Linked DNA regions of Homo sapiens: all the other regions are linked to region 2. Evidence: fine-mapped expression QTL. A gene starts in region 2. Each other region holds a variant in brackets. All regions are shown on one strand. Distances are from middle to middle. Region 1 overlaps MICOS10-DT (MICOS10 divergent transcript). Region 2 holds the start of NBL1 (NBL1, DAN family BMP antagonist). Region 3 overlaps HTR6 (5-hydroxytryptamine receptor 6). Region 4 has its middle 19 kb from the start of MICOS10-DT. Region 5 has its middle 34 kb from the start of MICOS10-DT.

What was found.
Region 1: its variant is fine-mapped to the expression of NBL1 in whole blood (TwinsUK, PIP 0.95). The same link has a PIP of 0.9 or more in CD4 T cells.
Region 3: its variant is fine-mapped to the expression of NBL1 in gastroesophageal junction (GTEx, PIP 0.96).
Region 4: its variant is fine-mapped to the expression of NBL1 in whole blood (TOPMed, PIP above 0.99).
Region 5: its variant is fine-mapped to the expression of NBL1 in whole blood (INTERVAL, PIP above 0.99).

Annotation. Positions count from the first base shown.
Region 1 is chr1:19,587,483-19,592,605 of GRCh38, reverse strand. It overlaps MICOS10-DT (MICOS10 divergent transcript), which reads left to right. Exons shown (of 2, transcript NR_135054.1): 2 at 721-804. Among named protein-coding and RNA genes, the nearest start is that of MICOS10-DT, 6.8 kb to the left of the region's middle. The variant G/TG (reference allele first, on the strand shown) is at 2,581.
Region 2 is chr1:19,641,499-19,646,498 of GRCh38, reverse strand. NBL1 (NBL1, DAN family BMP antagonist) reads right to left here and starts at 2,188. Exons shown (of 4, transcript NM_005380.8): 1 at 2,053-2,188. The region is part of intron 1 of MICOS10-NBL1 (MICOS10-NBL1 readthrough); the gene reads right to left. RefSeq lists a silencer at 2,103-2,442 and an enhancer at 2,341-3,176.
Region 3 is chr1:19,677,264-19,682,390 of GRCh38, reverse strand. HTR6 (5-hydroxytryptamine receptor 6) reads right to left here. Exons shown (of 3, transcript NM_000871.3): 2 at 3,666-3,824; 3 at 1,425-3,472. The coding sequence ends at 3,023. It overlaps TMCO4 (transmembrane and coiled-coil domains 4), which reads left to right. Exons shown (of 16, transcript NM_181719.7): 16 at 1-151. Among named protein-coding and RNA genes, the nearest start is that of HTR6, 15 kb to the right of the region's middle. The variant A/G (reference allele first, on the strand shown) is at 2,300.
Region 4 is chr1:19,575,103-19,580,229 of GRCh38, reverse strand. No RefSeq gene overlaps it. Among named protein-coding and RNA genes, the nearest start is that of MICOS10-DT, 19 kb to the left of the region's middle. The variant C/T (reference allele first, on the strand shown) is at 2,648.
Region 5 is chr1:19,560,336-19,565,462 of GRCh38, reverse strand. No RefSeq gene overlaps it. Among named protein-coding and RNA genes, the nearest start is that of MICOS10-DT, 34 kb to the left of the region's middle. The variant T/C (reference allele first, on the strand shown) is at 2,685.

The DNA of each region.
Region 1 (5,123 bases), 54 kb after region 2:
AGTGACACTATCATAGATCACTGCAGCCTCGAACTCCTGGGCTCAAGCAATCCTCCCACCTCAGCCTCCCAAGTAGTTAGGACAACAAGCACATACCACCTGGCCTGCTATTTTATTTTATCATTATCATTATTATTATTATTATTTGAGACAGAGTCTGTCTCTGTCACCCAGGCTGGAATGCAGTGACGTAATCTCGCTCACTGCAAGTTCTACCTCCCAGGCTCAAGTGATCCTCCTAGCTCAGCCTCCCAAGTAGCTGGGACTACAGGTGCACACCATCACATCTGGCTGATTTTTGTATGTTTTGTAGAGATGGGGTTTCACCATATTGCCCAGGCTGGTCTCGAACTCCTGAGCTCAAGCAGTCTTCTCACCTTGGCCTTCCAAACTGCTGAGGTTATAGGTGTGAGCCACTGCGCCCAGCCCAAACTGATTTAGTAACTACAAACTGCCTAAAATAGTGCTTGGCTCCTAATTGGAATTCTGTAATTCATTATTATTATAGCACTGCTCTTAATTGTCTGGAACAGGTTTCACAAAGATAGAAGTTTACATTTCAAATGAATAAAGACAGACTCCTGTAAGAGGAAGAGAGCCAACATCTTTTTACACTGTATTGAAGAAAAATAAAAAACCAAAGTCTGTCACTTGAATAGGCTAGACTTTAGCCTCAACTGGTTAATCAACTAAACATAAACTCTTTGTTTGGTTTACTAGGTTGTAAATTCAGCTTCCTTAACGTCGCAGATTAGAATGTTCTACACCACAGCACCTGCATAAATAAAGGTCTTTTAGATGCCAGTGATTTTCTTCATGGTTTCTCTTCAATTAAAAACTAATGTCTTAGGCTGGGTGCAGTGGCTCACACCTGTAATCTGAGCGCTTTGGGAGGCCAAGGTGGGAGGATCGGTTGAGCCCAGGAGTTCAACACCGACCTGGGCAACATAGGGAGACTCTGTCTCTACAAATAATAAAAACATATAGCTGAGTGTGGTAGTGCACACCTAGAGTCCCAGCTAGTTGGGAGGCTGAGGCAGGAGGATCACTTGAGCCCAGGAGGTCTGGGTTGTAGTGAGCTGTGATCATGCCACAGCATTCCAGCCTGGGTGACAGAGCAAGACCCTGTCAAAAAAAAAAAAAAAAAAAGAGAAAAGAAAAGGAAAAAAAAACCTCTAATTCCTTTCTTAAAGAAGAGTCACATTTTTTTGTTGTATTTCATATCTTCTTTTTCCAAGAGGGGTCCTATATCATTTTGTCCCTTCAGGAATGTGTTCAGAGTCAAAATCTACTACATAGCTGCTTTGTTTGGTTCCAAAGCCCAGGGACCCCCTCCCCTTTTTAATGTATGTGTATGTATGAAATATTCCAAGCATTCGGAAAAGTGCTAAGAACATGGCCAGGTGCGGTGGCTCACGCCTGTAATCCCAACACTTTGGGAGGCCAAAGTTGGAAGATCTCTTGAGTCCAGGAGTTTGAGACCAGCCTGAGCAACATAGTGAGACCTTGTCTCTACAAAAAAATCAAAAAAAGAGGCGGGAGGATAGCTTGGAGAAGGGAGGATAGCTTGAACCGGAGGTTGAGGCTGCAATAAGCCGTGATCACATCACATCACAGCACTCCTGCCTGGGTGACAGAATGAGACCCTGCCTCAAAAAATAATAATAATAAATACATTAATTAATTAAAAATTAGTCAGGTGTGGTGACGAGTTGCTGTAGTCTCAGCTACTTGGGAGGCTGAGTCCAGAGGATTGCTTGAGTAAAAGAGTTCAAGGTTGCAATGAGTTATGATCACGCCACTGCACTTCAGCCTGAGCAACAGAGCTTGACCCCATCTCAAAAGAAAACATAAATACAGCTTAACAAATTGTTGTAAAATGAACATGACTAGCACCCCAGAAGACCCTTCTCTGCATTTCCTTCAGCAGATCCAAACTGCTCCCTCCTTGCCAAGGCAGGATAGCATAACCACTATCTCGACTTTTTTTTTTTCCCCAGACAGAGTATCACTCTGTTGCCCAGGTTGGAATGCAGTGGTGCAATCAAGGCTCACTGCAGCCTCGAAGCCTCCTGCCTCCAACTCCCAAGTAGCTGGGGCTACAGGCACGTGCCAGCATGCCTGGCTAATTTTTTGCTTTTTACTTTTTGTAGAGACAGGGACTTGCTGTATTGCCCAGGCTGGTCATGAATTCCCGGGCTCAAGTGATCCTCCCATTTCAACCTCCCAAAGTGCTGGGATTATAGAAGTAATCCACAGCACCTGGTATATCTTGACTTCTATGTTATTCATTTCCTTGTTTTTCTTTAAGTGTTGCTACCTGGTTATATATCCTTAAACAATATAGTTTAATTTTGCCTAATTTTGAACTTTGCTTAACTGGAATCATACAGTCTGTATGTTATGGTATTCAGCTTCTTTTCCTCATTAGTATCCATGCTTCTGTATGTAACTATAGTTCGTTCTTTTTCGTTGCTATATCATATTCCATTATATGCTGTCCACAATGTATTTAGTCTATTGTCCATGGATATTTGGGTTGTTTCCAGCTTGAGGCTTCTTTTTTTTTTTTTTTTTTTT[G/TG]AGACTGAGTCTCCTTCTGTTGCCCAGGCTGGAGTGCAGTGGCGTGACCTCGGCTCACTACAACCTCCGCCTCCCAGGTTCAAGTGATTCTCCTGCCTCAGCCTCCTGAATAGCTGGGACTACAGGTGCCCACCACCACACCCAGCTAATTTTTGTATTTTTAGTAGAGACACCGTTCAGCTATGTTGGCCAGGCTGGTCTCAAACTCCTGACCTCAAGTGATCTGCCCGCCTCGGCCTCCCAAAGTGCTGGAATTACAGACATGAGCCACTGTGCCTGGTCTCAGCTTGAGACTGTTGCCAACAAGTCTTCTCATTCTTCTATGAATATCCTGATATACACTGGCATTTATATACATATAGGCAGGATCTCATTCTGTTACCCATGCTGCAGTGCAGTGGCATAGTAGGCTTACTGCAGCTTCAACCCCTCAGGCTCAGGCAATCCTCCTGCCTCAGCCTCCCAAGTAGCTGGAACCACAGGTGGTGCATGCCACCATCCCTGGCTAATTTTTATATTTTTTTTGTGTGGAGACATGGTTTTGCTATGTTGCCCAGGCTGGTCTCGAATTCCTGGGCTCAAGGGATCCACCATTCTCAGCCTCCCAAAATGCTGGGATTACAGGTGTGAGCCACCACGCCCGGCTCAATGGGCATATATTTTTATAGAATATGTAAGTCAGGAGGGCGATAGGGTATGTATACCTTCAGCTTCACTTGATACTGCCAAACTTTATCCCAAAGTGATTGTACCAATTTACATTGTCCCCAGCAGCATATGACCATTCCTGTTACTCCATGTCCTCACCAACAGTTAGGCTGTAATGATACTTTAGTATTGTTGCCAGTCTGGTAGGTGTCTGCTAGTATCTCATTGGGGTAGTGCTTGCTCTTTCCTGTGAGTGAGCTACTAGTCATGTACTCTGAATATATAATGTAGCAGGACTGGGGGATTCCAATCAAATCAAAGAGGCCCTGAAAGAGAAGGGAAATTGACAGAGACATTTTGCTAAAGTGATGCCTTGCCAACTTGAAGAAGGTGTGCTGGGTTCAATAGTGTCCCCCCAAATTGATGTCCTTCCTAGAACCTCACAGTGTGGCCTCATTTGGAAATAGGGTTGTTGAAAATGTAATTAGTTGGCTGGGTGCGATGGCTCATGCCTGTAATCCCAGCACTTTGAGAGGCCGAGGCGGGCAGATCACCTGAGGTCAGGAGTTCGAGACCAGCCTGGCCAACATGATGAAACTCCTCTCTACTAAAAATAGAAAAATTAGCTTGGCATGGTGGCTTAGCTTGGCATGGTGGCAGGCGCCTGTAATCCCAGCTACTAGGGAGGCTGAGACAGAAGAATCACATGAACCCAGGAGGCAGAGGTTGTAGTGAGCCGAAATTGCACCACTGCACTCCATCCTGGATGACAAAAGCAAAACTCTGTGTCAAAAAAAAAAAAGTAATTAGTTAAAATTAGGCCAGGTGCTGTGGCTCACACCTATAATCCCAGCACTTTGGAAGGCCGAAGTGGGAGGATCACTTGAGTCCAGGAGTTTGAGACCAGCCTGGGCAATATAGTGAGACCTTGTTTGTACAAAAAATGTTAAAAATTAGCCAGGCGTGGTGGTGCATGCCTATAGTCCCAGCTTCTTGGGAAGCTGAGGTGGGAGGATCACTGGAGCCCAGGAGGCAAGGGCTGCAGTGAGCTAAGATCACACCACTACTACTGCACTCCAGCCTGGCGATAGTGAGACCCTGTCTCAAAAAAAAAAAAAAAAAAAAAAAGATTAGCTCATACTGGAGTGAGATGCACACTAAACCAAAAAGACTGGTGTCCCCATAAGAAAAGAAGAAGAAACACAAAAACAGAGAAGATGACCCTGTGACAACACAGGCAGATAATTTGGCTTATGTGGATATAAGCCAAGGAAGACCACGGATCGCCAGCAAGCACCAGGCGCCAGAAGAAAGGCATGGAACGGATGCTCTCTCTGAGTCCCCTGAAAGGAATCAGTCCTGCTGACGCCTTGACTTTGGCCTTCCAGTCTTTGGAACTGAGAAACACTATAATTCTGTTGTTTCAAAGCCACCAGTTTGTGGTCCTTTGTTATGACATCGTGAGAGAACTAACACAGCAGGGAGCACACTGGATTGAAGATCATGAGAGCTGCACCCCAGTCTCCACTCTGCCGTTAACTGCTGGTTCTGCACATGTAGTCATGCCTGTCTTACCAGGTGGGCCTTTCTGTGGACTCACCTCTTTAGATTCGTTCTTTCTTTTTTTTTTTTTAAGTCAGAGTCTCACTCTGTTGCTCAGGCTGGAGTGCAGTGGCATGATCTTGGCTCTCTGCAACCTCCGCTTTCCAAGCTCAAGCAATTCTCCCACCTCAGCCTCCTGAGTAGCTGGGATTACAGGCATAAGCCACCATCACACCTGATTTTTTTGTGTGTGTGTGGAGACCGTATTTTGTCATGTTGCCCAGGCTGGGCTCAAGTGATCCCCTGCCTCAGCCTTCCAAAGTGCTGGGATTATAGGCATGAGCCACCAAGCC
Region 2 (5,000 bases):
CTCACCCAGGTCAGGCCCCGGCTCTGGTCAGCCCAACCGGGTTTCCTGGGCTCACTCTGGGGTTTGAGGATGAGTTCTGGCCAAAGCTCATACATTGGCTTTCTGTGTGCCTGGAGTCAGGAGAGTCTAATGGTTATAGCTCGAGCCACTGACCATTTGCTTCCCCCCTCAGCTTCACGTTTGCATCTGTAAAATGGGCAGCCTGGCCTGGGAACGTCCATTTCAGCAGATCCCCCAGGGAGGAGCCTGGCTCCAGCATACTGCTTAAGGCCGCTGTGATTCCACGACCCCAGTCTCACGGCAGGGTGGCTTTTCCTTCCTTCCTTCAGCACTGGGGAGAGCATGAGTCAACTGTCCAGAGGGCGGACACACAGGGCCGACCCCGTGCCACCCAGGCCTGCCTGCATCTTCCAGCCCTGACCACCTCTGTGCCAGCCCCCAAACCCAGGCCACGGCCCTCCTTACCGCAGACCCTCCTGCCCGCAAACGAAAAACAGTCTCCAAAACAAATCCATGCTAATGAGCTGCTGCAGGGCCAGGCTGCACATCTGCTCAGCAGAAGTTCCACTGCAGACCTCACCAACAACCCTGCCCGCTCCGGCAGCCTCCGACCCTTGAGGTTGTGGGTGGGGGGAAGCAGCTAAACTCAGCCTGAAATTTCACTTTAAAATAATGAGGCGATATCCCTGGCCGATGCAGAACACCTACTCCCCTGTCCACCCCTCCAAAACACAGGCCCGGGAGAGAGGTCCAGCTTGCAGGGGTGGGTGGAGAGGGGTAGGGGTCACCGAGGAAACGCTGCAGCCTCGCCTTTTCTTTGGCCCCAACTCAAGGCAAACCACGCCCAAGCAGCCCCAGCATCTGGGGGAGTCTAGGGAGGCCCCATTCCGCAGTAACAAAGGGTGAGGGGCTCCTTGTTGACAAATTGCTTCCCCGCCAGCGCCCGGTCTTTGGCCTCCAGCCCTGACCTCTGTTTTCCTGGGGTGCCCCTAGTTACAGGCTGGTGGCGTCCAGCTTGGGGAGCGAGGGCCTCCGAAAGCCTGGAAGTGTGGCTTTCTCCCTTGATGCCCGCCAACCTCCGGCCACGCCAAGGCAGGCGGCTGCCCCCTTTGCCGCCGCTTGTAAACGATCAGAATCGCCCCGCCCTGGGAGCGGGCCGGGCAGGTGGCCCGCAGCAGGGCCTGTCGTCCAGCCGGCCTCGCGGGGGTGGAATTCTTAAGAAAACTGAGCCCCCGGAAAGGCTGGCTCTCCCTGCCCCAGACTCAATTCCAGGGAGATGACCCGGGCCAGGCCTCGGGGCCGGCGGGAGGCAGGGGGAGGGTTTGCCGCACCCGGTCTAGGAAACTATTCGTGAACCCCGCTGGGGGAAGGCGAGCCTCCGACACTGGGGGATTGTCTGGATCGGAGGGCGGGGGATCAGGGAGAGGCGCAGACACAGGGCGAGACCCCCACAGAGGGCAGCGCAGAGACAGAGAGAGGGAGAGAAAAGCCAGAGGCAGAGACACAAACGCGGGCAGCCGAACACGGAGGCAGGCGGGGAACGGAAAGAGACGGGCAGACCAGGGGAAAGTGAGCGGCGGAAACGGAGCGACGGAGAGACAGACACACGGACGTGGGGACCGAAGCAGAGGGGGCCGCGGGAGGCGGAAACGTCCAGAGCCGAGAGGCGCGGCGCGGCGAGGCCCGGGCACGGCCGGGGGACATGCGAGCCCGGCCCGCCCGGCCACGCATCTCCCTCCCTCGCTCCCTCTCTCCCCCGGCCGCGGAAACTCCGATCCAGAAACGGAACCCTGGGGCGAGTCTGGGGACGGGCTCCGGACGCGGCGGTGCCCCCCGGCCACCCCGTGCCGCGCCCACGTCCCCAGCGCCGGCGTCCGGAGGCGCCCGCCAGGTCCCCCAGGGCTCCTGAGCTCGGCGGCGGCGCCTCCACCCGGTGCCCGCGGCCGCCGGACGCGCCGGGGGACGCAGCTCCGGGCTGGGGGCGCGGCACTGCCCCCGCGGCCGAAGCCTCTGGAAGCCGGGCGCCCGCGTGCCGACCCGGGCGGGACTTACCGCGCGCGCCCGCCGGTCCTGCGGAGCTGGGTGCGGGGGTCGCGGGCCCGGGCGCCCCAGGAGGCTCGGCGAGGCGGCCGGCAGGGCGGGGGGCGGCCCCGCGACGCTCGGCTGGGCTGCGCTGCGCGCTGTCTGCGGCCCCGGGCGGGCGCGCGGCGCGGGGGAGCGGCTCCGACGTCAGGGTGGCTCCCTCCAAACAGGGCGCGAGGGCGGGGGCAGCGGGGAGGGCCGCGCGCAGAAAGAGCGGGCGGGCGCGCGCGGCCTCTCCCTCCGGGTGCGCAGGAGGGGGCGCCGCGGCGGCAGGGGCCCCGGGCCCTCTCCTGGCCCGCCCGCCCCGGGCTGAGCTTCGGCGCGCTCCGACGGCGTGGTGGGGCGGCCGGGACGCCTGGCCGGCGCCCGAGAGGCAGGGCAGCCCAGCCGGGCGCCCTGGCCCGTTCTTAAGCGCCCTCCCCGGGTTTCTCTGCGCTTCCACTCTCTCCGCCCGACTTTTACCGAGCCTGGGCCGTCAGGCCGTGCCAGGCCTCGGGGTGACAAAGATGGATGTGTCCTTTTTGTGGGCACCGGGCATTGCAGACTTGCCCCGAGAGTGGGGCGCCCCAGCCCGCCGCGTCCCGGCACCAGGAGTCCCCAGTTCTGCGGTGCACCTCATCCCGTCCGCTCCGGCATGCGACCCGGTTCAAGTCCGTGCTGTTGGTAGCCTGGGTTGCTCAGCCTTGCCTAGTGTTATCCTAGTGTCGCTCTCGGCCCCACGCCCTTGGCTTAAGCATCCCGAAAAGCCCCAGGGACTTATTAGGAACTAAAAAGCCAGCAAATGAACTCACTTCTCTGACTCCTGGGAAGAGTGGAGCTCCTGGCCCCAGCTTCCAGCCTCACCTCGGGGGTTCCTATCTAATCAGTGGGCACTTGGGTGGATTGCGGCCGTACCTTCTCTATTCTGTGTGCTTAACAACGGGGTGAGAAAATAACTTTGCTTCTGGAAAGTGGTGGCCCAGGGACACCACTGGGACACGATTGTAGGACTTGGGGATTTTGCTTTACAGCATAGTTACCTGTGTCCATGTGTTTTACCTAGCTTGGCTGGAAACTTCCAGATAGACACAGCCCTGCTTGTCTGACTCATGAGGTTGCCGGGCATCCTGGGTGGCTCCTAGTGGCCTGCTGGGAACTCCCTGGTGTACTCCAGCCTACTCGCACCCTCCACACCCAGCCTGCATCTGCGCCTCCTAGCTGTTGCCTGCGCCCTTCCCTCTGCCCGGAATTCCCTTCCCCTCCTTTCATCTCTGGCAAACATTCTTCCAGCTCCAGATTGGAAAGCCTTCCCAAGACCCTTTGGGAGCATCTCCCTCCTCCAGTGTGATCCTGGAGCACAGGATGAGAACTTCTGTTCATGTCAATTTCCCTCTAGAATAACTGTGTACATCTCTTGGGCAAACATTCTTCCAGCTCCAGATTGGAAAGCCTTCCCAAGACCCTCTGGGAGCATCTCCCTCCTCCAGTGTGATCCTGGAGCACAGGATGAGAACTTCTGTTCATGTCAATTTCCCTCTAGAATAGCTGTGTACATCTCTTTCCTCCATTAGACCTTGAGGGCAGGAATCGTGTTTATTTCAGTGTCTCCATTGCTTATGGGCAGGCCAGGTGAGATGTACAATGTATTTGGTTGAATGAAGTTGTTGTTGTTGTTGTTGTTGTTGTTATTATTATTATTATTAGAGACAGAATTTTGCTCTTGTTGCCCTGGCTGAAATGCAATGGCGTGATCTCGGCTCACTGCAACCTCTGCCTCCCAGGTTCCAGCAATTCTCAGCCTCCCGAGTAGCTGGGATTACAGACGCCCACCACCACGCCCAGCTAGTTTTTGTATTTTTAGTAGAGATGGGGTTTTGCCATGTTGCCCAGGCTGGTCTCCAACTCCTGGCCTCAAGTGATCCTCCCGCCTCAGCCTCCCAAAGTGTTGGGATTATAGGCATGAACCACCACGCCCAGCGAATAAAGTAATTATTATCCCCCATTAATGTAGCACAGATAGGTCTTCCCTTAATGGTAACTATGACCGTTATAATAGTTCACACATATTGAGCACCTTACCATGTGCCTCATCCCATTGCAAGCTGTTGCCACTCTCACAATAAACCTATGAGGTAAGTATTGTCTCTGTTTTAAAAGTGCCAGGCGCAGTGGCTCATGCTTGTAATCCCAGCACTTTGGGAGGCCAAGGCAGGAGGATCACTTGAGGTCAGGAGTTCGAGACCAGCCTGGCCAATATGGCGAAACCCTCTCTCTACTAAAAATACAAAAATCAGCCAGGTGTGGTGGCGTGTGCCTGTAGTCCCAGCTACTCGGGAGGCTGAGGCAGGAGAATCACTTGAACCTGAGAGGCGGAGGTTGCAGTGAGCCGAGATCGCACCACTGCACTCCAGCCTGGGAGGCAGAGTGAGACTCCATCTCAAATAAATAAATAAATAAACAAACAAACAAATAAAATAATAAAAGTGAAAAAAATCCCGAGGCTGGAGGATCACTTGATCCCAGGAGTTTGAGGCTGCAGTGAGCTATGATTGTGCCACTGTACTCCAGCCTGGACAACATTGCAGAAGGCTAATTGTGGAACCTAATGAGCTTGTCACTCCAGCAAGGCCTTGTCTCAAAAAAAAAAAAAAAAAGTGAAAAAAGGAACGTCAAGAGAAAGGTTAAGTAACTCGCCTAAAGTCACACAGTAAGAGCCCATGCCAGCTAGTGTCTGTTGGATAACTATATACCATGTACGGCAGAAACCAGCCTCACTGCACTGTACACAGTAGACACTCAGGAAATATTTACCATTTTGCAGCCAAAGCTTACCCCCGCCATCTTTCATGCAGACCCCGAGCAGGGTAGAAAGTAGAGTTCTACATTTTGTAAGAATCCACTCCCACATTGCAGAAAGCTAATTGTGGAGCCTGATGAGC
Region 3 (5,127 bases), 36 kb before region 2:
CACCACTAACAGAGCATGGTGAATACATGCTGAATTGCATTCAGTATGGCTGTGAACTAGGCCTGGGGACAAGAATGAATTTTACATGGAAAGAATTTCCTGTAGCAGGAACAGAGGGGATAACAACAGCAATAAATAATAATAAGAAGAAGCTACCACTTCTTGAGCATGTACCACATACCAAGTGGTTGCCTGGGTTGTGTCAGTTGGAATTCACAGCAATCCTATGAGGTAGGGACTATTATTATCTTCATTTTATATTTGGGGAAACTGAGGCTCAGAGGGATCAGGTAACCTGCTGAAGGCCAAACAGCTGGTTAACGATGGAGCCAAGTTCCAGGCCCCTGTATGTCAGACTCTAATGCCCAAGTCCCAAGCCACTGGGTCTGCATCCGTGAGAGCTTTCCTCTTTGTTCCTCCCACAGTCCCTGAATGGCAGGGCCAGAGATAATGCACCCTTGTTGTGCAGATGGAGAAATCAAGGCCCAGGCAGAGGAAGGATTGACAAGCTCTGGGGGAGGTGGGAGGAGGGCAGCAAAAATTAGAGTCGTAGAACATAGGAGCCAGATCCCTGCTCAGGTGCGTGTGTATTCATTTGTTCATTCGACACACATTTATGGCTCACGCCTGTAATCTCAGCACTTTGGGAGGCCAAAGTGGGAGGATTGCTTGAGGCCAGGAGTTGGAGATCAGCCTGGGCAACATAGCGAGACCCAGTCTTGACAAAAAATTAAAATAAAAAAATTAGCCACTGCCAACTACTCAGGAGACTGAGGCAGGAGGATTACCTGAGCCCAGGAGCTCGAGGCTGCAGTGAGCTATGATTGTGCTGCAGCACTCCAGCCTGGGTGACAGAGTGAGACTCTGACTCTTTTTTTTTTTTTTTTTTGAGACGGAGTCTTGTCTTGTCACCAGGCTAGAGTGCAATGGCATGATCTCAGCTCACTGCAACCTCCACCTGCCAGGTTCAAGGGATTCTCCTGCCTCAGCCTCCTGAGTAGCTGGGATTAAGGCACTTGCCACCACGCCTAGCTAATTTTTTGTATTTTTAGTAGAGATGGGGTTTCACCATATTGGCCATACTGGTCTCCAACTCCTGACCTCAGATGATCCACCCACCTCAGCCTTCCAAAGTGCTGGGATTACAGGCATGAGCCACCATGCCCAGCCAACTCCAACTCTTAAAACACAAAATTTAAAAACAAGTATTTATGCAACTCTTGTTGCTTTTAAACTAAGCTGCTCATGTCATACATGGGAAATGGAGGCTCTGAAAGGGGAAAGGATTTTTCTGGGGTCCCAGATTGAAGGGGCAGAATCTGGACCAGAACCCAGGACACCTACACCCAGGCCTCCCCACGACACCAGCTGCTTCTCAAGCCCCGAGTGGCCCCTCAGTTGAATCCAGTCCACACCACAGCCACTGCCTTCAGCTAGAGTTTATTGAGAGTCCCCTTGGGCAGACCTGGGGGATAGGGGAAGCCCCGCAAGCACCATGGCCCCTCAGAGGCCAGCCGCCGGGGCCAGAGTTGTGTCTCATCAGCACCAAGGAGAGGGCCAGGCCAGGCATGGAGGACCCCCTGGGAGTTTGTGTTGATGGAACTTGGGGGAGGCAGGGCTGAAAAGGGACCTATGGCAGGTAAACTGGCGACCAAGAGTTCCCCAACCCCCTGCCCCCAGAAACCAAGGCCCCTGTGCCAGAGTCCACCTGCCTGCCTCGTGGGCCCCACCTCACACCAGGAACAGCTCTTTGACTCTACTCTGCTGACCCAAGTAGCTACCATTCCCATTTCTCTCACTGACCCCAGGGAAGGCCAGAGGCAGGTGGGCAAGGGGCTGGGTTTATCCCCATCAGTTGTTCCCTTCTAGGTCCAAGGACCCCCCAGGATTGAGGAAAACCAGTTCTGAGGCTGAAAAAGAAACTGCCACCTGCCCCTTTTGCCCCCAGGAAAGGCAGGGCAGCAGCTTGGGAGCTGGGAGGGTCCCTGAGAGATGGGGTCCCCACCCAGGAGCCAGAACAGGGAGTTGGGGAACCAGAGTCAGGCTTTGGGAGGCTAGGCCAGGGCTGAAGAGGGGGAGGCAAATGGAAAGAGAACAACGGGAGCAAAGAGCCCTTCCTGACACACAGCCGGAGAGGCCAGGGGGCTGGATAGCCGGGGGTCGTAACAACAGAACGTACCAATTAACTGACCGTGTACTGGGTGCTGGGCACACATTGTCTTAATTCTCAAGACAACCTGCAAGATAGGCATCATTTCTCTACCTTACACATGGGATAACCGAGGCTCGGAGAGGTTAA[A/G]TAACTCGTGTCAGGCCCCAGAGCTCATAGGTGGTAGAGCAGAGGCCCACATGCATGCCTGCCTGCCTCCCAGGTGCAGCTGCTGCCACATATATACCAGGGAGGGGAGACTGACAGGTCCAAAAACCATCCAGCAAATCATTCTGAGGGTTAAAGATGATCTAAGGCAGCACATCTCAAACTGTAATGGGCACATGATTCACCTGGGATCTTGGTAACATGCAGTTCTGACTCAGCAGGTCTGGGCAGGGGCAGAGATGTGCATTTTTCACAAACTCCCAAAGGTGACGGCAATGCCGATTGTCCATGGACTACACTGTGAGTAGCAAGGGGTTCAGCCCAGCATTAATCCATGCCTGCAGGTGGGGGCATTCCCTCCCGTCCAGCCTGACAGAATGGGCAAAGGTCATGATTGTTTTCATCCTAACCTGAACCAAGAGGTCCTTCTCCCCAACATCCAGAGTCCTCCAGCCCATCCTCTGCACACACAAGTTACACTCAACAGTGGAGCATCCTTCAGAACACGATATCTGAGTCAGCTATGATCCCTGCAGGTAAGGGGCCTGGAGATGGCAGCAGGGGGTCAGCTCTGCGCACCCCTCTGGAGCTCAGAGGGCTTCTAGGAGACTTGCAGCCTCCTGGTCTTAGCCAAGAGCTGGCCCAAGGACTCAGGGTCTGGGTTCTGCTCAATCCAGCTCCCCATTGGCCAGCCCCAAGCCCGGGTCAGTTCGTGGGGATGCCAAGTGGATGCGGCCGCAGCTCGGGCTCCGCGGGGTCGATGTTGAAGAAATTGACGGCGGCAGCGGCCCTGGTGGGCAGCGGGGGGTCCTGGGTGGCCTCGCCAGGAAGCAGCAGCTGGGCCGTGAGCCGCAGGCCCGAGGAGCCGCCTGAGCCTGCGTCTGAGTCCGAATCTGAGTCCGGCGGCAGGGGCAGCGGCAGCACCTGCTGTAGGCTAAGGCCGGGCCGGGGGCCGCTGTGAGAGGTGCGCAGTGATGGCGAGGCCAGGCTGGCCTGGCGCTCCCGGGGACAGCGTGGACATGGCAGGAACCTGCCCAGCGCCCGCTTGAAGTCCCGCATGAAGAGTGGGTAGATGATGGGGTTCATGGTGCTGTTACAGTAACCCAGCCATGTGAGGACATCGAAGAGGCCTGGGGAGATGCAGTCGCACACGGCCTGGGGGGAGGGGATGCATCATGCCTGGTCCCAGGGCAGGGACCCAGGCCACCCTTCCCAGCATGTATGGAGCAGACACACACACACACGCACCACGAGAGGCAGCCTACCCTCCCCTGTCCCCATGCCTGGGCTGGGATCCAGGGCCTCTCCTGCAAGGGCCGGACTCACCTGCCCCCTGCCGTGGCATTACCTGGACTATGTTGGCCACAAAGAAGGGCAACCAGGTCACAAAGAACATGCCCAGCAGGATGCCCAGCGTCAGGCTGGCCTTCAGGGCCTTCCTGCTGTGCTTCGTGGCTAGACGCCTGCTGTCAGCAGACTCCACCCCTGGGCGTGGGGTCCTGGGCACCTGCGGAAAGGAAGGCCACATGAGTCCGTTGAGAAAGGGCCCCCGTCTGACCCTGATCCTAGCCACAGACTGAGCTTCAATCCTAATTCTAGACTGAGCCCTAGTGCCAGGATTAAACTGGGCCCTGTTCCTTGACTGAGTCCCAACTAGAGTCCTAGACTGAGCCCTGACCCTGACTCCAGGCCAAGCCCTGACATCAGCAATAAACCAAGCCCTGACCTTGGCCCCCCACTGAACCCTGACACCTACCATAAAGCCCTACATAACCAAGTTCTCAAACCAAGCCTCAACTGTGGACCTAGACTGAGCTCTGATCCTGGTCCCACACTGAGCCCTGACCCTGACCCAGAATTTCATAAGGAGCTCTAGGAAGTGCAGTGAGACAGAGCAATACCTGAAACACAAATCAGATGGTTCAGAAGAACAACCATCCCTGCAAAGACAATACGTGACACAGGCCAACACACACATTACAATGAGCCCAGCACCTTCCAAAGCCTTTAGCGCTACAGAAATCAATTGCAATTGACTGGGCACAGTGGCTCACGCCTGTAATCCCAGCACTTTGGGAGGCCGAGGCAGGCAGATCACTTGAGGTCAGGAGTTTGAGACCAGCCTGGCCAACAGGGTGAAACCTTGCCTCTACTAAAAATACAAAAATTAGCCAGGCGTGGTGGCAGGCACCTGTAATCCCAGCTACTCAGGAGACTGAGGCAGGAGAATTGCTTGAACCCAGGAGGTGGAGGTTGCAGTGTGCCAAGCTCACATCACTGCACTCCAAGCCTGGGTGACAGAGCGAGACTCTGTCACACACACAGACACACACAAAATCAATTGCAATTGAACAGTACTTGAAAAAGAGGACCTGTTACTGTCCAGAGCTTGGCAATTGCTTTGTATGTGGATTGTCTTCACATTTGGGAGCAATAGTCTTGCCTGGGCAATTACTCTTGAGCCCCACAAAATAGAAAGGCTTTTTTGAGAATGTGTGCACAGAGCCAATGTTTGCAGCTAAATCTCTTAATAGGCTCCTAAGGATGCTGGTTACCTTGGCATTTTATAGCTCAATTATACTGCGAACTGGCAGGCATCTCCATTCTCAAAAGTGGACAGGAAGAGGAGGAAGGGGTAGGAGGGAGGAAGAGAAAGAAGCTACTTCCCAGCAGCCACTGAAAGGAAGGCATGGGCCCGGGGAGGTTAGAATTTGACTTTGCAAACTGGCCCCCACAGTCCCAAAGGGCTCTCTGAGCTGGATCATTCTTTAGCTCAGCAGTGCTCTTCACTTGTTAAACTTCATGAGCCT
Region 4 (5,127 bases), 66 kb after region 2:
TCCAGCTACTCGGGAGGCTGAGACAGGAGAATCGCTGGAACCCAGGAGGCAGAGATTGCGGTGAGACAAGATTGCGCCATTGCACTCCAGCCTGAGAAACAAGAGCAAAACTCTGTCTCAAAAAAAAAAAAAAAAACGGAAGAAGAAGAAGAAGAAGAGCTGTGGCCACCACAGTCAAGTGCCTCCTCTGCTGAGATGGAAGGCTGCCTCAGTCTTTCCCAGGGTGGGCGCCAGACCCAGCTTGACCCCATCATAAGCTGCAACAGGAAGTGCATAACGCTCCGGGGATTAGATTGCAAAGGCTACAGGTCTTCCCACTGTTTCTGAGCCCAGATTAAATTCTCAGCCAGGGCTGAGGGAGCTGTTATCCCCAGTGCAGCCCAAAGAGGCCAGAGAACACAACTTAGAAGTGCAGAGATAAACTTCTAACATTGAAAGACAGGAGAGGAGGAGTCAACAGATGAATTCCATTTTCTTCTGCAGGCCAGAAACCAACTTTCTCCTTCCCAAGATGCAGCAGCATGGAGGTGTTATGGTTCCACTCGCCTCTCTAGAGATGTTCCTGTGTGACGAAGTGACTAGCTGTGTTTTCTTGTGAATGTTTGGCTCGCTCAACAATGCACCTTACTTTCCCTCACTCCCTGCCTTCTTTCCTTTTCTCTCCTTCTTCTCCAATAGAGCAAGAGTGTGTAAGCTTTGCCTCAGGCTCTGATGTCTAAGGAACCCAGGCTAAGCCAACATTCAGGTGGAAATGCAGAGTAAATAGGGAGGTCAAATGGAAGTTAAAAGCATTGCTAAAACCACCTAACATTTAGAGGCTAGGGAGATCAGGGTAAATCAGCAAAGAAAAATGAGAAGGAAGGAACATGGACGGGAGGAAAACCAAGAAAAAATGGTCTCCTGGAAGCCAAATGAAGTGTTTCAAGAAAGACAACATGATTAACTGGGCCAAATGAAAGAGGGTGGAGAAGTGGCCATTGGTCTTAACATCAGAAAGGTAATTTTAGAGACATTGACAAGGACGGTCTCCATGGAGTAGTTGGAGCCAAAGTCCAAATGCAGTGTGTTTGAGAGAGACTAGGAGGAGAGGGGCTGGAGGCAGCAAGTGCACACAATCTTTTCTAGAAGTTTATTTCCAAAGAGGGACGAAAAAGGGCAATAGTTTGAGAAGGGGTGGGTTTGACAGTGGGTTTTTTTAGAATGGGAGAACTTGCTCATGTTTGTATGTGGATGGGAATGATTCAGTAAAGAGGGTAAAACTGATGATGCAAGAAGAGAGAGGAGGGCCAGGCACTGTGGCTCATGCCTGTAATCCCAGCACCTTGGGAGGCCGAGGTGGGTGGATCACTTGAGGTCAGGAGTTCGAGACCAGCCTGGCCAACATGGTGACACCCCGTCTCTACTAATAATACAAAAATGAGCTGAGCGTGGTGGCAAGTGCCTGTAATCCCAGCTACTTGGGAGGCTGAGGCAGGAGAATCACTTGAACCCAGAAGGCAGAGGCTGCAGTGAGCTGAGATCGCACCACTGCACTCCAGCCTGGGCGATAGAGGAAGACTCTGTCTCAAAAAAACAAACAAACAAACAAAAAAAGGATAAAAGAGGCCGGGCCTGGTGGCTCACGCCTGTAATCCCAGCACTTTGGGAGGCCAAGGTGGGTGGATCATGAGGTCAAGAGTTTGAGACCAGCCTGGCCAACATGGTGAAACCCCATCTCTACTAAAAATACAAAAATTAGCCGGGCATGGTGGTGCATGCTTGTAGTCCCAGCTACTTGGGAGGCTGAGGAAGGAGAATGGCTTGAACCTGGGAGGTGGAGGTTGCAGTGAGCCGAGATCGTGCCACTGCACTCCAGCCTGGGCGACAGAGTGAGACTCCATCTCAAAAAATAAATAAATAAAATAAAAGAGAAAAGAAATGCCGAGACTTTCTATTCCAGAGGGCTAGAAGTAGAAGGTTTATTTCTAAGAAAAGGGAGAATGCTAGACATCTGGAATTTCCTCTCCATGGATGCCTGGGTCTCTGGGGCCCAACTTTTAAAGTTGAACACTTATTTTTTGATGTGGTTAGAATCCCTGAGCCCAAAATATGTTCCCAAGAGTATTTAATTAAATGGGAATCTGGTGTGCATCTGTGACTAATTAATGCTGATCAAAAACAATTAAATATTAAATGTCAGTGGTTTCTTACCTGGTTTCTTACCAATAATTGCAAAGGGCTGAATGCAATTATCAAGTCCTGACCTCCATAAGAGCCAAGTTCACATTAAAATAATGAACGACTGAAACAGAGCCAATGAAAGAGCAGATTTTGTGAATGTTTTAAAAATTGAAGCAATGAAATGCTAATCATCAGGGCAAAGGTATTAGTCAGAGTTCTCTTCCTCAGCCTATGGATGTAGAAGGGTCCTCTCTCCAAGAGAAAGAACGGAAGCCCCGCTTAGCAATGTAGCAAACATTTCTAACAGTTCTCCTTATAGTAAAATGTTTTCATGTGCTGATAACTGTTATAGGATATAAATATATATAATGATGTAATTCACTCAACAAGTATTTGATGAGGACTTGATTTGGCCAGGTTCTATGCTAAGCTCTGGGAATAAAGAAACACTGAAGAACTCTCTATCTTCAAGGTCTAGTCTAAATAC[C/T]CTAACACCCACCATTATCAGAACCACCTGGTGTGTGTTGCCCTTTCCCTCTCTGGTTCAATTAGTATGATTAGGGGCTGCTGTTGTCTCCTGGTTTCCTAAATAATATACATATTTTTAAATTTATTGTACTGCTTATTTTGGAGTGATTTTAAAAGATGGTAGCAGAAATGCCTTTATTGTGCCATCTTGAAGCTGGCAGGCCCCCACGCCCCTCGTGGTCCTGGTGAAAGGTGAGACACATCAAGTGGATCCCACAGATGAACTGCTTCTTCCCTTTGGGAGCAATGTGGGGGATTGAAGAACAAAGACCAAAGGCAGTGGCGTGGATCCATATGGTTGTTGAGAGCCAGAAGAATGAGTCAAGCCCAGCAGATCATCCAGCAAAGACATGGGTGGAGGATAGAAACCGTAATGTAAAGCCAAAACAAAGTCAGCTGAGAACCAAGAAATTTATGAACAAGGAGTAGCAGAGTGGAAAAACGAGGTAGTCTGGGAGGATTCCAGAGACAAACTGGGGATGTTGTGGCAACTTTATTTTTTTATTTTTTTGAAATGAAATCTCACTCTGTCACCCAGACTGGAGTGCAGTGGTGCAATCTCGGCTCACTGCAATCTCTGCCTCCCGGGTTCAAGCAATTCTCCTGCCTCAGTTTCCCGAGTAGCTGGGGCTACATGCGCGCGCTACCACGCCCGACTATTTTTTTTTATTTTTTGTATTTTTAGTAGAGATGGGGTTTTGCCATGTTGACCAGGCTGGTCTTGAACTCCTGGCCTCAGGTGATCCTCCTGACTCGGCCTCCCAAAGTGCTGGGATTACAGGCATGAGCCACAGTTCTGGGTCTCTTGTGGCAACTTTAAATCTCACCCCTGCGCTGACTTGAATATGCTGCTCAGGTCATTTCAGGGGATTGTGGTGGTCGAACGGCCTGATGCTATATCCTCCACTGGCCATTTCTAAAGTGAGGAGTAAGCCCCCTTCAGGAAAGCCTGAGTTCAGAGCCTTTGTAAACTGTAAAGCTATAGGAAGTACTCATTTGATGTTCTTGCGATGGTGCTTGGTACTTCAAATTCTTTATCTGTAAAGAGAAGACAACTTCAATTCTCTCCACCTATTTTACAGCTGCATAGGGATGCTGTGTGGATTAATGAGACCTTCAGCCTGACTTTCCCCCTTGGCTGTGCAGGATGCTCCTAAAAGGGACTGTTTATCCTGAGGTTCAGACACATCTGTCTTTAGCTTAAAGCTGAATGCAAGAAGCTTAAATGCTTATTACTAAATGAAAGAAGCCAATCTGCAAAAGTTGCATAGTATATGATTTCAACTATATGATATCCTGGAAAAGGCAAAAAAACTACAGAGGCAGGCTGGGCACAGTGGCTCATGCCTATAATTCCAGCACTTTGGGAGGCTGAAGTGGGTGGATCACCTGAGATCAGGAGTCCAAGACCAGCCTGGCCAACATGGCGAAATCCCATCTCTACTAAAAAATACAACATTTAGCCAGGCATGGTGGCAGGCGCCTGTAATCCCAGTGACTCAGGAGACTGAGGCAGGAAGAATTGCTTGAACACTGGAGGTGGAGATTGCAGTGAGCCGAGATCGTGCCACTGTACTCCAGCCTGGGCAACAGAGTGAGACTCTGTCTCAAAAACAAAACAAAAACAAAAACAAAAAAACGACAGAGGCAGTAAAAATATCAGTGGTGTCCAGATGTTGCGGGGAGGGAGGGAAGAATCGGCAGAGCACAGAGGATTTTAGGACAGTGAAAATGGTCTGTATGATACTTTTATGGTGGATACATTTCATTATACTTTTTTTTTTTTTTTTAGACAGAGTCTCACTCTGTTGCCGAGGCTGGAGTGCAGTGGTGCCATCTCGGCTCACTGCAACCTCTGTCTCCTGGGTTTGAGTGATTCTCCTGCCTTAGCCTCCCAAGCAGCTGGGATTACAGGCACGCACCACCACACCCGGCTAATTTTTGTAGTTTTTAGTAGAGATGGATTTTGCCATGTTGCCCAGGCTGGTCTCGAACTCCTGGGCTCAAGTGATCCACCGACCTTGGCCTCCCAAACTGCTGGGATTACAGGTGTGAGCCACTGCATCTGGCCGTCATTATACAGTTGTCCAAACCCACAGAATGTACAACATCTAGAGTTAATCCAAATGTGACCTATGGACTTTGGGTGATAATGATGTGTCAACGTGGATTCATCAATTGTAGCATATGTACTGCTCTGGTGGCGGATATTGATAATGGGGAGCACTGTGTATGAGTTGGGGAAGGGGGTATATGGGAAATCTCAGTTTCTTCTGTTTTTTTTGGTTTGTTTTTTAAAATTATTTTTTAAAATTTTGAGACAGGGTCTCACTCTGTAGCCCAGGCTGTAGTTCAATGGCACAATCTTGGGATCTTGGCTCACTGCAGCCTCAACCAGGATCCTGGGTTCAAGTGATCCTCCTGCCTCAGTCTCCCGTG
Region 5 (5,127 bases), 81 kb after region 2:
GCTGTGCTACCCTGAGGAACTCACTGCATCTCTCTGAGCTTCCGGGTCCCAGTCTGTAACAAGGAAGTTACAGAAGCTAACCCGCAAAGTTGTGAGGATTAAGAGAGCTAGTTAGAGGCCAGGTGAGGTGGCTCATGCCTGTAATCCCAGCACTTTGGGAGGCCGAGGTGGGCAGATCATGAGGTCAGGAGTTCGAGACCAGCCTGACCAACATGGTGAAACCCCATCTCTACTAAAAATACAAAAATTAGCCAGGTGTGGTGGCGCATGCCTGTAATCCCAGGTACTCAGGAGGCTGAGGCAGGAGAATCGCTTGAATCCAGGAGGCAGAGTTTGCAGTGAGCTGAGATTGCGCCACTGCACTCCAGCCTGGGCGACAGAGCAAGACTCCATCTCGAAAAAAAAAAAAAGAGAGACAGTTACTTGGGGCCAGGCATGGTGGCTCATGCCTGTAATTCCAGCACTTTGGGAGGCCGAGGTGAGTGGGCAAATCACTTGAGCTCAGGAATTGGAGACCAGCCTCGGCAATATGATGAAACCCCATCTCTACAAAAAATACAAAAAAATTAGCCAGGCACAGTGGCACATGCCTGTAGTCTCAGCTACACGGGAGGCTGAGGTGGGAGGATTGCTTGAGCCTGGGAGGCAGAGACTGCAGTGAGCTGTGATTGCGCTACTGCACTTCAGCCTGGGTGACAGAGCAAGATCCCATTTCAAAAAAAAAAAAGAAAAAAGAAAAAAAGAGCTAGTTGGTCAAGGGCGTGGCGCTTTGCAGGTGTTTAATAAATGCCAGTTCCTGGTCCCCTTCTGATCCGGAATAAGTAACTTCCTCCTGTTGGCATGGAGTCCCTGGACTCCAGTAAAAGAGCCAAGTTTGTGTCCCTCCCCCTCGTCATGTTCTCAGAAAGGCTCAGAATAGAACCCAAATCTCCTGGCTCCACTTGGAGCTGTAGCCAACAGACCACACGACCACTTTTTTCCTGTCCACTACTTTCTTTTGAGGTGGAAAGTAGTCAGTTGGAATAACTTACCCAGGGGCAGGGAAAGGAAAAAACAGCAAAAATTGTTTTAAAAGGGAGTTATACAAGCATTTGCAGGAAAACCCCATTGAGGGGCATTAATGCTGATTCAAAGGAGGAGGAAATATGAAATCTGACAGTTTTCCAGGCCTCTGGTCCTGAATTTCCTCTCTTCCATCACACGTTTTTCTCACCCACAAAATGGGCCTTAAAAAAAGGATGACAGGTTAGAAAATAGACCATGTCAAAAAAAGTGGGGAGTCTTGAGGTTGTTGTTCCGCAAGAGCATAAATGCTGCTCCCCATTATGACCGGCCAGTTCCCTAAGTAATAATGGGGAAAGGCAGGCTCAGGCAGAAGCTGATGTCTCCCCGGGGAAGGAGAATGAATTCTGGATTACGAATGGAGACCATTTTCCAGGGCTGCTTTGATCTCTTGCCAGATCCAGGGCTGGAGACCAGCAAGTTGGGACTCCAAGGAAAACCGGACTTCGCAGCAGTCTCTAGCAGCTGTCTTCCCAAACGGGTGTGTGCCTGCAAAGCCGGGGCGGCCCTACGGTCCAGCCCAGCTTCTGCCCAGCGCCTGTGCCCTTGCGCTTCTGCCCCTGGGAGTCCTGCCTCCCGCTTTTCCTCCCCACCCAAAACAGAGCTGAGTTGGCGGCCGAAAATGAGTAAGTGTGAAGTGAGACTGCACACTAGTCTTTGTTGAGGGTTTGTTTTTGCCAAGCAGCTTGGTGGAGAAGATTGCATTGCTTGGTTATTTTTAAACCTGGATTTCTGGAATTTTATTTGGAAAAAAACAAAACAGAAACTCAAGTCTTGAGAGGCTAGTGGCTCCAGGCATCCTCTCTAGGAGGCTTGATATTGCCTAGAGCTGCCAGGAGCCTGGGGGAGTTTTGGGCCGTCAGAGGATGGAGGAGCAGAGGGTTTCCAGTCAGTTCTGGAAAGCAGCCCTGCTCCCCATCCCCAGGGGAGAGAACACCACACCTATATGAGGCCTCACTTCTGGTGTTTCTACTTGCTGTGTGCCAGGCTGGGTGGCAATCAAGACAGTTTCGGTCCTTGGTTGTGTGTGGCTCATGGCTTAGATGAAGATGATTTTCTTTTTTTATTTTTTAGAGGTGGGGTCTCACTATCCTGCCCAGACTGGTCTCAAACTCCTGGCCTCAAACCATCCTCCTACCTCGGCCTCCCAAAGTGCTGGGATTACAGGCATGAGCCAGTAGTTCACCTGGCCTAGATGAAGAAATTGATAGTTGCAATATATTTACAATACCAGCTTCACAGGGGAAGACACAAAGGTTGGGGTTGGGGCTGCTAACCTAGCCTAGAAGGATCCAGAATGAAACCCAAAGAATGTGTAGGGTCAGCAAAGCACAGCCAGAGAGGACTGTGGGTAGGAGAGGGGTGGGGCGGGGGTGGCAGCAAGAAAGCAGGGGCTTGATAGCAGAGACTTGGCTTCTAGCTCCTGCTCCATCTCCAGCAAGCAGTGCCATTTAAGCAAATGTGCTTGTCTCCTCTGCACTTCATTCTGTTCATCTATAAAACAAGGGATGTTATTAATCCGTTACTTACAAAAGCTAACATTTACTGAGTCCATACTTGGTGCCAGACCCTATTCTAAGCACCTTATATATATTAAGTCCAGGGGTAATTTTCAAAAACAA[T/C]AAAATTATGACTTTCATACAGATATTAAATGAACCCATATCAAAGATTTTGTGGAACACATTAAGTAATGAGGGAATTGATAAGATGTTACGACTAGTTCAAAATATCTCACAGTTATAGTCGCGTAAGGAACAGGGAAGTGAACTTACAGATTAGGTACGAAACTGGCAAAGTTGGTTGATATCCACAAGGCAATAATTAATTTCATTCTACCGGACACAAGTTGCATTTCTATGGACAAGAACCAGGCCGGGCACAGTGACTCATGCCTGTAATCCCAGCACTATGGGAGGCCGAGGCAGCAGATCACTTGAGGTCAGGAGTTCGAGACTAGCCTGACCAACATGATGAAACCCTGTCTCTACTAAAAACACAAAAATTAGCTGGGTGTGGTGGTGCATGCCTGTAATCCCAGCTACTCGGGAGGTTGAGGCAGCAGAATCGCTTGAACCCGGGTGGTGGAGGTTGCGGTGAGCCAAGATCGCACCATTACACTCCAGCCTGGGCAACAAGAGTGAAACTCCCATCTCAAAAAAAAAAAAAAAAAAAAAAAAGAACAATTTGTTTTACTGACAGCTTTCTACAAGATACAGAGCTATAAAGTAGCTCAAAGACAATGAAGGGCCAAAAATAATCCTATGGGTTGAGCTAGTCAGGACACCCACTGAATGTCGAGGTTTTTCTAATTTGTCCCTATGATCTCCCCAACCCCTTAGGATCATTATAATCTTAAAGAAAAATGACTCTTGATTTAAAAATTGACTGTTCTCATTAGATGTGGTCTGATTGTTTATGTAGGTACAGCAAGAGAGTTAATTTGTCAGCTAGACATGGTGGCTCATGCCTGTAACCTCAGCACTTTTGGGAGGCCGAGGTGGATGGATCACTTGAGCCCAGGAGGTCCAGACTAGCTTGGGCAACATCGTGAAACCCCTTCTCTACAAAAAATACAAAAAATTAGCTGGGCATGGTGGCACACACCTGTAGTCTCAGCTACTAAGGAGGCTAAGGTGGGAGGATTACCTGAGCCTAGGAGGTTGAGGCTGCAGTGAGCCATGATTGCGCCACTGCACTCCAGCCTGGGCGACAGAATGACACATTGTCTCAAAGAAAAAAAAATATTAATTTGTCGTATAGGCCTCCTAAATGTGCTTCACAAAATTTACAGCCATGTCGTTTCAAACAATTACAAAATTAGCTTTTGTCTAGAAGTTTTCATAAGGAATCTCCAATTGGAATCTTTATTCTTTTCCCAGCTGGAATCGTAAAAGGCTCTATTATTTGTTATTTCAAAGTTAAGACACCCAGCTCAAGACGCTTCCCACAAAATTTCTTTCACCTGTCAAACCTGTATATCTGAGTGAATTCTTCTCTTTTTTTGTTCTCTGAATATCATAAAGTTCCTGGCCTTCCAGGAAGTGACTGTCTTTAATATCTGTAAATCAGGTACCAAGTCACTTTTGTTTTTTTTGTTTGTTCTTTTTTTTTTTTTTTTTTTTTTTTTGAGACTGAGTTTCGCTGTTGTTGCCCGGGCTGGAGTGCAATGGCACGATCTTGGCTCACCACAACCTCCGCCTCCCAGATTCAAGCAGTTATCCTGCCTCGGCCTCCAGAGTAGCTGAGATTACAGGCATGCGCCACCATGCCCGGCTAATTTTTTTTTTTGTATTTTTAGTAGAGATGGTGTTTCTCCATGTTGGTCAGGCTGGTCTCGAACTCCTGACCTCAGGTGATTCATCCGCCTCAGCCTTCCAAACTGCTGGGATTACAGGCGTGAGCCACCGCGCCCGGCCCTTTTTTTTTTTTTTTTTTAAGACAGAGTCTGGTTCTATCATACAGGCTGGAGTGCAGTGGTGCGACCTCAGCTCCTGCAACTTTCGCCTCCCCGGTTCAGGCTATTCTCCTGCCTCAGCCTGCCCAGTAGCTGGGACTACAGATTACCGCCACCACAGCTGGCTAATTTTTATATTTTTAGTAGAAATGAGGTTTCACCATGTTGGCCATACTGTTCTCAAACTCCTGACCTCAGGTGATCTGCCTGCCTTGGCCTCCCAAAGTGGTGGGATTACAGGTGTGAGCCACCGCACCTGGCCCCAAGCCAGTTTTCATGGAGACCTTTGTAGGCGTGTGTTCCGTAAGTATTAACACAAATTTTATCCCTTAAAATGCCCTGTCACACCTGATTTAGTGAGCACCATTCTCAGATATGATGCTCCAAGTGAGGCCTTGGCTACAATTAATCCATTTGTCCTGGTAAGAAGGAGGACATAGTCCTGCTGAACATGTGCAAATAACTATTACCATGAAAAGTAAAAAGACTTTTTTTTTTTTTTTAGGTGGAGTTTCGCTCTTGTTGCCCAGGCTGGAGTGCAATCGCGCAATCTCGGCTCACCGCAACCTCCACCTCCCGGGTTCAAGAGAGTCTCCTGCCTCAGCCTCCCG